Regions from separate parts of the Homo sapiens genome. Here regions 2 and 3 are each reported to be linked to region 1. The links are microRNA targets in miRTarBase. Many come from high-throughput screens and were not tested one by one. Region 1 holds a microRNA gene; each other region holds the end of a gene's coding sequence.
The links. Region 1 holds the annotated microRNA hsa-miR-139-5p (UCUACAGUGCACGUGUCUCCAGU, at 1,343-1,365, shown strand). A microRNA usually pairs through its seed, bases 2 to 8, with sites in the 3' UTR of a target mRNA and lowers its output. Matches are read on the target gene's strand: a 7mer-m8 pairs with bases 2 to 8, a 7mer-A1 pairs with bases 2 to 7 and ends in A, and an 8mer does both.

Region 2: miRTarBase lists DCAF4L1 as a target of hsa-miR-139-5p. Seed matches in the 3' UTR shown: 7mer-A1 at 2,697-2,703.
Region 3: the mRNA of ADAMTS17 is a reported target of hsa-miR-139-5p. Seed matches in the 3' UTR shown: 7mer-A1 at 1,844-1,850.

The regions. Positions count from the first base shown.
Region 1 is chr11:72,612,467-72,616,466 of GRCh38, reverse strand. It overlaps MIR139 (microRNA 139), which reads left to right and starts at 1,337; the gene lies at 1,337-1,404. All of the region lies in intron 2 of PDE2A (phosphodiesterase 2A), which reads left to right. LOC105369377 (a long non-coding RNA gene) reads right to left here. Exons shown (of 4, transcript XR_001748292.2): 2 at 2,165-2,375; 3 at 1,730-1,838. RefSeq lists an enhancer at 2,330-2,429.
Region 2 is chr4:41,982,625-41,986,785 of GRCh38, reverse strand. DCAF4L1 (DDB1 and CUL4 associated factor 4 like 1) reads right to left here. Exons shown (of 1, transcript NM_001029955.4): 1 at 321-4,161. The coding sequence ends at 3,803. Among named protein-coding and RNA genes, the nearest start is that of DCAF4L1, 2.9 kb to the right of the region's middle. RefSeq lists enhancers at 3,768-4,161, 4,100-4,161.
Region 3 is chr15:99,971,055-99,975,215 of GRCh38, reverse strand. ADAMTS17 (ADAM metallopeptidase with thrombospondin type 1 motif 17) reads left to right here. Exons shown (of 22, transcript NM_139057.4): 22 at 654-3,779. The coding sequence ends at 814. Among named protein-coding and RNA genes, the nearest start is that of LYSMD4, 240 kb to the right of the region's middle.

The DNA.
Region 1 (4,000 bases):
TGAGGGGCTGGGTAATGCTGGAGACCTGGAGAGGGGCAGGACACAATCTCTGCCCTCCAAAAGCTCCCAGTCTGTTGTGGGAGCCAGACGGGAAAGGGTGGCACTGCATTGATGCACACAGTGCATGCCATGGTGGGGGAAAGGGGGGCAGTGGGAGCCCCAGGTGGGAGGGTCAGACTTGCCTGGAGAGAGAACAACAACAGACTCTCCCTGGAGGGGATCCAGAGAAGGGAGATCACTCCATTCATTCATTCGTCATTCATCCATCCACCCATTCAATTATTCCTTTGGCCATCATTTCCTGAGGGATGTAAACTCTCTTCTGACACTGACCCAGCGGGACACTCAGCGTCCTCCTCCTCTCCTGCTTGAGCCACCATGCCTGCCTCTTGGAGGCTCCTGGACTTGCTTTGCTCAGCTCCCAACCCACCCTGAGGGGGTGAGGCTGAGGAGGGTGTACAGACATTCAGGGTCACCAAACTCAGAGCTGGAGGCCTGCCACCTCACCAGGGGCCTTTCTCAGGGCACAGGCTCCCTGGTGGCAGGGCCTTGGCCCTTGCTTGCACACCCTTGGGGACTAGGAGCCCCCTCATCCATCCTGCTCAGGCTCTCTTTTGTGGCGCGACTCTGATTCACAGTGTGCCCAAATCTGCCTCCTTGTGACTGCCGCGAGCTGCCTCGTGGGCCCCAGGCCAGAGGACAAGGATAGCTAGAATGCCAGGTGACCAGGATGACTGTGATGGCATGGAGAGGGGGATGCTGTGATGTGTTTGGGAGGAAGTTTGTGGTGTCCAGGAGAATGTGGGCAGCAGAAATGGGACCACTCTCGGTTCTTCCCTGTAGATGAAGCAGCTGAAGGTGGGAGGGGGTGGGAGGAGACCTGAGCTGGCTCTGCCCCGCTTGATCTGATGTCTGCCTTGCAGGGCCATCCTCCCCCTCCCCACACTCAGCTCCTGCCTCCCTCCCTCTACCCACTCTGACTGTTCCCTCCTTTCCTGACTCCAGACTCTGGGTGAGGGACTGAGGTGATTCCAGTGAGTCAGGCCCTCAGGGAACTGATCGTGCAGGCAACTCTTGCCTGCCTTCTCCTGCTCTTTCCCTCTTCCCATTCCTTCATCCACCCCCAAACCTAGCTCCTGATGGATCCAAGGGTGCGGGGGACAACCGGGAGGTCATTTTGGAGGAGGCAGGAGCTGGAATAGAAGCTGGGACTGGCTTGGGAAGGGCGAGAGGCCGGGGCGGAGCTGGTTGTGGGCGCTGGAAGGGAGGAGCCAACAGTGTGGGGTCAGGCTCCTGTGGATGGGGACACCCTTGGGAGGCACTGGGACTGGCTCAGGTGTATTCTACAGTGCACGTGTCTCCAGTGTGGCTCGGAGGCTGGAGACGCGGCCCTGTTGGAGTAACAACTGAAGCCGGAGTCTGCGAAGGGTGGGCAGGAGGGTGGAGGGATGGGGGCATGGAGCGGGAGGGGGTAAGTAGAGGAGGGAGGGGAGGAAGAGAAAGAGGGAGGAGGAAAGGTCTCTGGCAGGTCCCTCCTTTAAGACTGGGCTCCTGCGCTGCGAGTGGCCCCGTCCATACTGCCTTGTTATCCATATCTCCCCACCACTAGTCTCCCTCTGTCCTTCCACCCCCAGCCTCTCCCCTCCATTGGGACCTTCCCTGGGGCGTCCCCTCATTGGCTGTTCTCACCTGAGCAAGGCCCCTCCCCTCCAGTCCTTAGCCTCTTCACCTGTACAATGGGATGACCCAAACAGGCACCTCTTGGGCTTGTAGGAGGATCCAAGATAGTGTCAGTGGGTCTCGAGGTGTGGTCCCCCGACCAGCAGCATCAGTGTCATCTAGGAATGTTTGGAAACGCAAGTTCTTGGACCTCGTCCCAGACCTACTGTATCAGAAACCCTGGGGGTGGGGCCAGCAATCTGCACTTTAACAAGCACTCTGGGTGGTTCTGGTGCACATGAAAATTGGGGAACGGCTGGTGGAAACCTCTAGCCACAGGAGGTGCTTGGGAAAGGTACCTTCCCCTCCCCAAAGCCTGATGCCTCACTCAAGCATGACACTGACAGTTGGGCTAGTTCAGCTGCGTTCTGGGTCTCTGTCTTGCCTCCTCCTTCAGACTAAGCCTCCCAAGGGTTGCCAAGCCTCTTTCCTCTATTCTCCTCACCCTGATCCAGCTCAGCCTCATTGAGAGAAGTCTGGGGCTGCAAGATCTTCGCACTCACAGGCAGTTCCTCTTTGCACATCCAAGGCACCAGTGTCTTTGAGAGGCGTCTCCTTGGCCAGGTGGCAGGCGTGGGTGTGTGGGGAGGAAGGAGGAGGAACCGCCTTGTTCTGCTTTCTTGTCTCTGACTCTGCAGGCTGGGGGTGCTGTAAGGCTGCGAGGAGGCATAGAGTCAGCTTGGGTGCTGGGCTGAGGCCAGGGGCCGAGGCTCAGCTGAAGCGGGCTTCTCTGGTCTGAGCCTACAGGATGCCTCCTTTGGGGCAGTTCTGCCAGTCACCCTGACTGGGCGGCTGTGCTTGCTAGTGCCAGACCCATGCTAGGCACAGAGGTCGATACGTTCTCCTGTGCTCTTGAAGGGCCCTGTCCTCTGGGAAGATAAGAGGCTGTGTATATTGCCCACCGGAACAGGAGGCAGGAAGCAAAAGAGGCGTAGATGACACTTGCCTGGCACCCCCTGTTTCCCCTCTAGCTGCCTTCCTGGGTTTCCCATTCTGTGGGCGCTTCTCTTGAGTTAGGTGCTTTCTCCCAGTGTTCTCAAGGTGACTATTTGGAGGTTTGTGGGAGGAGTGGGCTGGAGACACAGGAGTAGGTGGGGGCAGGAAGTATGCAGGAGAGAGATGGAGAGTGGGAGGAGAAGCTATGAGAGGAAGAGAGGACGCGGAGGTGGGAAAAGACGTCAAGACTCCTGGAGAGGAACAGGAGTGCAGCCTGGGACAGAGGTGGACGTCGGCCGGGGGAGGCAGGGAGGAAGGCAGGGAGGTCCACCCGAAAGGAAGGGAAGGGATGATGGACAGAGAATGAGAGGGCTCCGAGGTCCTGGGGGATCTAGAAGGACCCTTCCCTTTACAGAAGGGGACACCAAGGCCCAGAGAGAGAGGAGGGCCTCACAGAGGACCTAACACAAGCAGAGTTGCATGAATCAGTGTGAACGGACAGTCCCAAGAGCACAGCCGGACCTTGGGAGGTACTTGACTCTTGAGTTTGATGTTATTGCCTTCCTGTAGGCCAGTGTGAGGGGCACTGTGAGGCTTCCTTCCAGAGAAGGAGGCATGGAGCCAGTGCCAGGCAGTGGGGTGAGCCATAGGAGGACCTGTGGAGATGGGGAAAGGCATAGAGACTCATGAAGATGAAACAGGAAAGATCTTATGGCAGCGACCCCAACCCTCAGGAAGGGCGTTGGTCTTGTGCTTGTGGCTCCAAAGGGGATAAGACCAAGGTCTCTGGTTTCATAGAATCTTAGGCTTTAAGAACGAGTTAGAAGTAATTTAGTCCAGACCCTCTCCTCTCCCCAGATAAGTGCAGAAATGCAGATCTAGCCCACGGCTGAGCCCCAACCCTGGCTTCAGAGGAGGCCTGACTCAGAACAGGCTCCCCTTTCTTGGTACCTGGGGTGAATGAAAGCTAAGTCCGTGGTAATGGTGCTGTCTGTGGTGCTGACTGGCCTTACCTTGGACTACAGAGCTGCAGGTGGAGCTGGAGAGAGCAGAAAGGCTCCATCTATCCATCTACCCACCCACCCAGCCACCCATCTACCTATCCACCCACCATCCACCCACCCATCCATCCACCATCCCTCCCCCAACCCATCCTGCACCCATTCATCTATCCACCTACCCACTCATCCATCCAGCCTCATTGAATTAAACCATAGAACTATATGCTGCAGAGCTAGAAAGATCCATTTTTTAGTAATGACAAAACTGAGGCTCAGAAGAGGAAAGGTGTTGCGTAAGGCCACACAGAACTTCTGTAGTCAGTCTGGTACAGGATTGGAAATTG
Region 2 (4,161 bases), not on the chromosome of region 1:
CTCTCTTATTCAACACTTCTTAGCTTCTCCAATAAAAGCTCCTTCTCTGCAATTTACCTGGTATGGTGGAGAAAAAATTACACATACACACACTTTTCCTTAGAGGGTAGTGAACAAGATTCATATTACAGCTGGAATAATTGAGTTATTAAATACTCCTGGAGGCAAGAGACTGACTGTTTGATAACCTTTATCCTTGAGAAGAATTAAGCTGAGACAGAGCATGGAGGTGTAATATTTTTAGAGAGGGCAGCATTTGTGAAGAGTCAATTCCTTCCCCAAAGCCACAGGTGGGGGCAGCAAGAGAAAGTCTTACTAGGTTTTTTAAAATTTAACTTTTTATTGAAGTATAATACACACAAGACATATATTAAGGGCATAGCTCTAACAATTATCACTAGTGAACAAAAACTGTGTAGCCAGTACCCCGCTATAGAGAGGATGCACCTGACAGCAGTAACAACCATATCCTGAGAACGACCCTGTGATCTAAAACGAATGTGTGCTCAGAATCCCAAACTAAGGAAACAGGAGCGACTAACCCTGAGTTTCACTCCTTATCTATGAAGGACGTCTGAACCCCCAGCCCATCCCTTACAACACAGGCAATATAGGGGATCAAGGTCCTTTGCTTTGGGTTAAATGGAGGTTGCTAGGTGGAGTGTGCTAAATGAAAATGCTATATAAACTGCATGCTTTTTACAAACAGTAGTGGTTCTTCTGTCCAGCCTACTACCACTGGACCATCCCTATATATAAGTTCCCCCAATAAACCCAAGTCTTGTTCGCTGTCTACGCATCTTCTTTGGACTCTCGGACACAGTGCCATTACTATTGGAGTCACTAGGGGTCTGGCATGACACCAGCATTGCTAGCTTCCTAGAATCTTCTTCTGGTCACTACTCTTCTGCCCTACAAGTATACCATTAATCCTGCTTCTAAGAACATAGATTCATTTTGCCTGTTTAGGGACTTTATGTGCATTAGTTGTACAATATGTGCTCTTTTGTGTTTGGCATCTTTATTTCAACATTATGTTTGCAGGATTTGTCCATAGTGCTATGCTCATTCTCACTGCAAAAAGGATTCCATTGTGTTAATATCCCACAATTTATCCACTCTACTATTAATGAACATTTGGGTAGTTTCCAGTTGGAGCTATTAACAAATTATGGTGGACACAGGTATGCATTTCTGATTAATATATTCCTAGGACTGAAATGACTGGGTCATAGAGTATGCAAACTTCTAGCTTTAGCAATTACTAACTTTTCCAAGTGCTTGTACCAGTATACACTCAACAGTATATGAAAGTTCTATTTGCTCACAACTGCACCAACATTTGCTTCTCTTTTAATTCCCAACGTCACTCCACCTGATCTATTTTATTTTAACCATTATAGTGAAAGTGGTGTGGCATTGTGGTTTTAATTTGCATTTCCTTGACAATAAAAGAAGTTGGATGCCTTTTCAAATGTATATTAGCCATTTGGATCTCCTCTTTTTCTCCTATTCAAGACTATTGCCTCCCTTTCTTTTAGGTGTGTTTTTCTTACTGATTTTTTTTTTGCATTTGTTTTCTTTGCAAATGAGGATAAACAGTTTATCAAGTTATGTAGTCATTTTTTGTCAATTGCCAAATAAATGACATATCAGTATCAGACATATATATATATACATATATATGTCTGCAGCTAGTTCTTACTGAATGATTGCAATGTCTTTTCTTCATTAATTGTTTTGTTTTATTTTGAATGCTTACAATGTAAAAGGGACAAGATACATATCCTTTAACCCTGTATCTACTTTATCATTTAGTTTTATTATCTAAGACATTTTACACTGAAGAAACAACAGCAAGTAAAGCTTACACAATTTCTCATGTCACATATCAAGTTAGTATAAAAAACTGACTGAAAGGATTCCAAAAATCTGTGCCTAACCATACTCCCATATCTTCTCTATTGATCTACTCATCTTCTATCAATATGTAATTACATTAACCTCATCTATGTCATATAAAGCACATCTATCCCATCTATTTTAATTCTATGTATTGAAGTCACCAAATTTGTATTACCAGCCATGACATGACCCCTGATCTGCAGAATACTTTGTATCTCCAATTGGAGGTTTAGTAGATGTCTAAAACTCAGCATCATTCCCTTCACCTAAAGTTTTTTCTCCTCATCCTCCCCAGGTTAGTAAACGACACCATCATCTACCAGTTCTAAAGTTAACAAAAAAGCTGCCATCCTCAGAGCTTGCAGTGAGCCGAGATCGCGCCACTGCACTCCAGCCTGGGCGACAGAAGGAGACTCCGTCTCAAAAAAAAAAAAAAAAAAGCTGCCATCCTTTTTTCTTTCACTTTCTAGTTTACTCTCATCAGCAAGCCTTATCAATAATACTACCTTCGAATGATCTTCCAATGCAATCATTTCTGATCATTTCTACTTCTCACACATGCAGGTCCAAGGCATCATTGTCCCTTGCCTAACTACAATAGTGTCCTAATTGCTTATTTTTATTTTTTGAGGAATAACATATATACAGTAAACTATAAAAACGTGAAGCATATAGATATATGAATTACGTATGTATCAAGTGTCAAGATAAAGAAAACTCAGCATTCCTAAAGCTTCCCCATGTCACTTCTCAAACATCCTAAAAAGAAAAAGAAAAAAAAATCCTTTCTTTCTACAGAGGTACGTACTACTCTACCTTTAATCACCATAGACAAGTTTTTACTGCTTTTGAACTTTAGAATTGAATCATACAGTTTGTACTCATTTCTACCTAATTTCAGTCAACATGTTGAGATTGGTCCATACTGTTTCACATAGCAAGTGTGCCTTATTTTCTATTATTATGCAGTATCCGATTGTATGATTATATCACGAATTTTAGCATTTTCGAAATTCAGATCATTTCCAGGCTTTGGCTATTAAGAAGTAGCAACTAACCTTATTACACGTTTTTTTTCTTCCTTGCTTAGTAGAAAAACAGGCTCTTTAACATTTTTAATAAATCTCTCACAAACTGCTGCTCCTAGATTACAAAAAGTCAAAGCCAATTCCTTGAATCTGAACTTCAAGTCACCATAATAGAAACCGGAGCTGCTGTACCTTACATTCTGAAAGGTACCTCAACAAAAGCACATCAAGGACTGTTTAAAACTTCTAGTATTTAAAAAGATCCATCTTTCCTTCCAATGCCTATGGATGATAACAATAAAAGGAGAACCTTAAGAGATCTGCTATTGAGTTTGAGAAGGCCAAATTTAATGATTCCAAACTCCAGCCTTAAATATTTCTGTAGAGACTCTGAGAAATTACCTCTCCCTTGTCTCCACTCCCACTGGCTTCCTCAAGCGCAGATGCCTGGGACCCTGTATGATTAGTCAAACAGTCTTACCAGTACCATCATTATGCTTCTCTAAAGGGCTACTAGTGAAAGAAGCTGCTTTAATTTATTTTAGTTTTTGCCAATCTTCAGTCCTTAGAAAAGTCTTAATTATTTAAAAAAAAAAAGGGTTGGGGAGGTGGTTAACTGTTCTAAGGCATTCAACAAGAGGAAACAGGTACCTTTTATGAAAAGGACTTTCAAGTTAAGTCCACAGTTTAACTGAAATAACTTTACAAGAACGTCTCCACATAAAACTCTTAACACCTTACCCCTGGCAGCCGGATGGATGCGATCTATATACAACACGTCTCTTAAAATGCTCTCACAGAAACGGTAATAAGATACTCTTAACTTCCTTAAGTCAAATCCACATTCGGCCGCGCTGCCACCTGCAGAATTAGCTGAAGGGGAAACAATAAAGGTCCTGCCGGACAGCCATGAGCAGCCCTGGTGCTGCTCCCCGGATGCCCCCGAGCCGAGAAGCGAAGGCCACGCTGGGAATGTCGTCCTCGGAGGCAGAGTACGGGGAAGGGATGGTTCTGAGCAGGTGGGCATCATGGAGGCTCCAGATTCTCGTGTAGCAGTCCTGGCCCACTGCCACCACGATTCCCTCTTCCTCGTGCACATGCAGGGGCAGATAGGCGGACTCATTCACGTGACCTTCGTACTGCCTTACACATTTAGTGGCCCTCAGATCCCACAGCTTGATCTTTCCAGTCATGTCTGATGCCATCAGGCATTGCTCTTCTTGGAGGA
Region 3 (4,161 bases), not on the chromosome of region 1:
TGATATGATGATTCCTTTTAACAGAGTTTCTGCTTTGCTAAATACAAGTCCCTGAGAAATATTTTCCTACCTGAGGCTGGAAACTCACCAAAATGAAGGGGATTTCTAGTATCTTTGTTCCGGGGGAGGCCTTTGAGCTGGCAGAAGTATAGTTGTGTCTTTTCAAGCACCGGCCTGCTTGGGAACTTCAGGACCTCCCTTGAGCAGGGCCTTCTCTCTGTACAATCAAGACCCTGAAGGATATTTGGGCCACTTGTATGTACTTGGACCTCATGCTTTTTGGGGTCCTTTGATGTCCACTGTTCCATGTTGTCCTGTTTTATAAATGCCTACAGTAATGGTACCCTTGGCCACAAAATAGTAAGTGCCACTTAGCTCGGAAGCAAGGTGGCCTGTGCCCTCTTCCCTGAAGAGGCAGCCAGACCACCACACTCTGTCATGTGGTTGGGTTTGGATGCAAAGGTGCATCCCTGTGACAGAAAGTGGCACCCCCAGTGCCCTGGCAGGAGGCATGGCCTAATCAGTGCAAAGGGTTGACGTGTGCACGAGGGTGAGGGAGCCCAGACGGTCAGACCACAAGCCCTCCCTGTGCCTGCATCAGGACATGCCTAGGCCATCCCTGACCCTGGGTATTCTCTCTCCTATCCCCTTAGCTGCTCTGACCTACAAATGCACACGAGACCAGTGGACGGTATATTGCCGGGTCATCCGAGAAAAGAACCTCTGCCAGGACATGCGGTGGTACCAGCGCTGCTGCCAGACCTGCAGGGACTTCTATGCAAACAAGATGCGCCAGCCACCGCCGAACTCGTGACACGCAGTCCCAAGGGTCGCTCAAAGCTCAGACTCAGGTCTGAAACCCACCCACCCGCAAGCCTACCAGCCTTGTGGCCACGCCCCCACCCGGCTGCCACAAGAATCCAACTACATAGAACATGAGCGTGGACTTGGCGTTTGCCATTAGTGCTTCCGTACTTAATATATTGTTAACAGCCACTGGCTGGCTTTCTACAGTGAGGAGAAAGTAGGCATGAGTCACAAAGTAACTTCAATTTCTAGGATTTCAGGTACCTCGAAGGGAAGCACCTCTGGCAGACAACCGTCAAGAGAGAGACATCATTTAGTGTTCTTGTCTTGACTCGCTTTTGACATTTGAATTTCCAGTGCTTGGTATATCATGGAGGAAACATCCCCAAAACGAGACATGCTAGAAAAGGCTTTATTCTGAAAGCCGGCGACACCATGGAGGGAGGGGCAGGTGTTGGTGAGCCTCTGCCCGTGGCTTCTCTGGGGAGGGCCGGGCTGCTTAGCACACGTTTCTCTCCATCTACCTTCTTGACCACATGAGAACCAGGACGTTGCCTCCATGCCCGTCTCTGAGAACATAGTCTCTAAATCCTAGGTGTTGCCTTGGAAGTCTCGTGCGTGGAGTGTAAATCTATATATGCCAGCGAGGACAGCAGTGCCACGCAGTTCATACCACCCGCATGGGAAGAATGTTCCAAGAGAGTCTGGGTTTGGGGAAGCATCTAATTTTCAGAGCTCTGCTGTCCACCGTGTAGGGAAACAGAAGGGCCTCTCTTCAAGGTGCTGTGACATAAGAAACGGTAATTGCGGTGATGGGGTTGCTTCCTAAGGCAAAGGTAAGCTTGGGCCAGCTTCACTGGGGCGGATGGGCACCTGCCCCGCCTTCCGGGAACATCCACTCTGGCCTGCACTTCCTAAAGCTTTGTACCTTAGAGATGCTGTACCACATCCCAGTGGCTTTCTACCGACCGTGGCCATTTATCTGAAGGTAAGACGACATTTGGGACCTCTGAGGACACAAGCCCAGGCCTAGGATCTGTAGAGCAAGGCCTGACTGCTCTATCCTGGCACGGAGCAGCCTGATGTGCCAGGACCAGGGGAGGAACGCCATCTGGCTGGCACTGCTGCACACCCGCCGAGCCTTCCTGTAGCCCCAGACTTTGTGGTACCCATTATCATCACGCCTGTCATCATTGACCCATCTTCTTGGTGGGGCAAGGATGATGCATGATGAAGGAAGGTCCTTCCCCCCTGCAGCCCCCTTACGCCTGGCAGCAGACAAGCAGAGTGGCCTCTTTGAGAGCACAGAGGATGGTAGCACCCTACCTGCAAGGAGGCCGGGCAGGGACCCTAGATGCCAGGAGGCCTGTTTTGCTCACCAACTTGGTGGGCATTTCATGGGTGCTTATGTTCTAGGACTTTACCGTAAATAACACCTCCTCCCTGATTTCAGACGGAAGGTCTCACTTGGACTTCCATGGGATCATCTCCCTGTGCTTCTTGATTTATTGGTGCTGTGTTTCTGTGTTTTGTTTTGTTACATGTCACAACCGTAGAGTTAGCTTAAATCAGAAAGAAGCCTCTCTGCCTTCTCCACCCTGTCTTACGAGCTGTGTTTTTGTTTTTACTACCCTAGAGGCAGAGAAGCGGTAGGGATGTCAGGGAATTTACTCACTTCCACTTGAATCAACGAGAAGTGTTGAGAAACTTCCGTGGGTGCTCTGTGGAAAGAACCGAGGGTGTCAGGATGGAGCGGCCCACCCTCGCCCCGCGGCCTGCGCAGACTGCTGTCCTCCCCTTCAGGCCTGGCCACCAGCAGACTCCCATGAATTCCCATTTTCACAAAGCCCTCAAAATTTTGGGGGCGCTGAGGTTCAATTTTCTTCATCCCCAAATGAACTGTTAATTCACTGAAAGACATTTAGACTTTTGCAGCCAAGGAGCAGAGCCGGGCAAGCTCACTAAGGAAGCCTTAGCTTGGTCTCCTGCATGGGCCCCGGGGCCTCCAGATATGCCCACTGTCACCCTGGCAAGGGCCCCACACCCTCAGAATGAAAAGGATTGATTGGGTTATTGTCAGATACCCCCATTAGTTCCCCTAAAGTCTGCATCTGCAGAGCTCTTTTAGCTCATCTTTTTGTTGTCGGTGTTGTTTTTTGAGACAGAGTCTCCCTCTGTTGCCCAGGCTGGAGTGCAGTGGCGCGATCTCAGCTCATTGAAAGCTCCGCCTCCCGGGTTCAGGCCATTCTTCTGCCTCACCCTCCCCAGTAGCTGGGACTACAGGCGCCCACCACCACGCCCACCTACTTTTTTGTATTTTTACTAGAGACGGGGTTTCACCATGTTAGCCAGGATGGTCTCGATCTCCTGACCTCATGATCCACCCGCCTCAGCCTTCCAAAGTGCTGGGATTACAGGAGTGAGCCACCGCGCCCGGCCTTTTAGCTTATCTTGAAATCCACCAGCCTACCTTCTGTTCATGGCACGAGCAGTGATTTCAGTGAAACCATCATAAACATTCTTGTTCCACTAGATGCTGATCACAGCAGTGATGTTTCTGTGTTAATACCCTGTACTGTCCCTCGAGTACTGTACCTTTGTGCTTGCACACGTGTCACTAACGCACGTGTTACCAGAGTCTCACGACCCTACGGTGCTATTTTTATTGGTGCAAAATTAAACCCTCTCAGCTGACCGTTGCTGGATAGGATCAGAATGCAGGAAAAGAGCCTCTATGGCAATACGATTGTCCTTTTTTCGTTTCAGAGTCAAATGTATCTATTTTCCATTCGTTAACTTGCATTACATACTGTACCCATGGAATTTTTGTTTTACTTTTTGGGGCTGGTTTTGAAAGGAAAAAAAACGGAAGACAAACATTGGACGCCATTATACATGAAAATTATATAGAAAAATTAATCATTTCATTGGAAGCAAGTTGAATATGTGTAATAAAATGTTTTTCCATAACAGTTTAAAGCTGTCTGTGAAGTAAAAGACATAAGCCAGTCCCCAAGGGCTGTCTCCTTCCCCACTGTGGTGGCCACCTGGCTTGCCAGGGACTTGGCTGCAGGGAGCCTGCTGGCCACAGCTGGAGTTGGTGTCAGAGGTCACTGGGAAATGCAGTTCGGGGGGATGGCTGCCTCTCCCTGAGCGAGTGCTAACAAATCTTTCTTTCAGTCCTGGCCTCATCCCGTTGTGGTTGCAAAACCCTGGGTGGGGACCTGAGGGTCTGACAGTTGTGCTGTGAGCCTGCGCATCTGATGTAGGGCAGCCACCTCACTGGCAGAGTGGCCCATGCTCCAAGACCCATGCTGCAGAGTGCACGCCCTGGCCACGCTGGCTGGAGAGCCA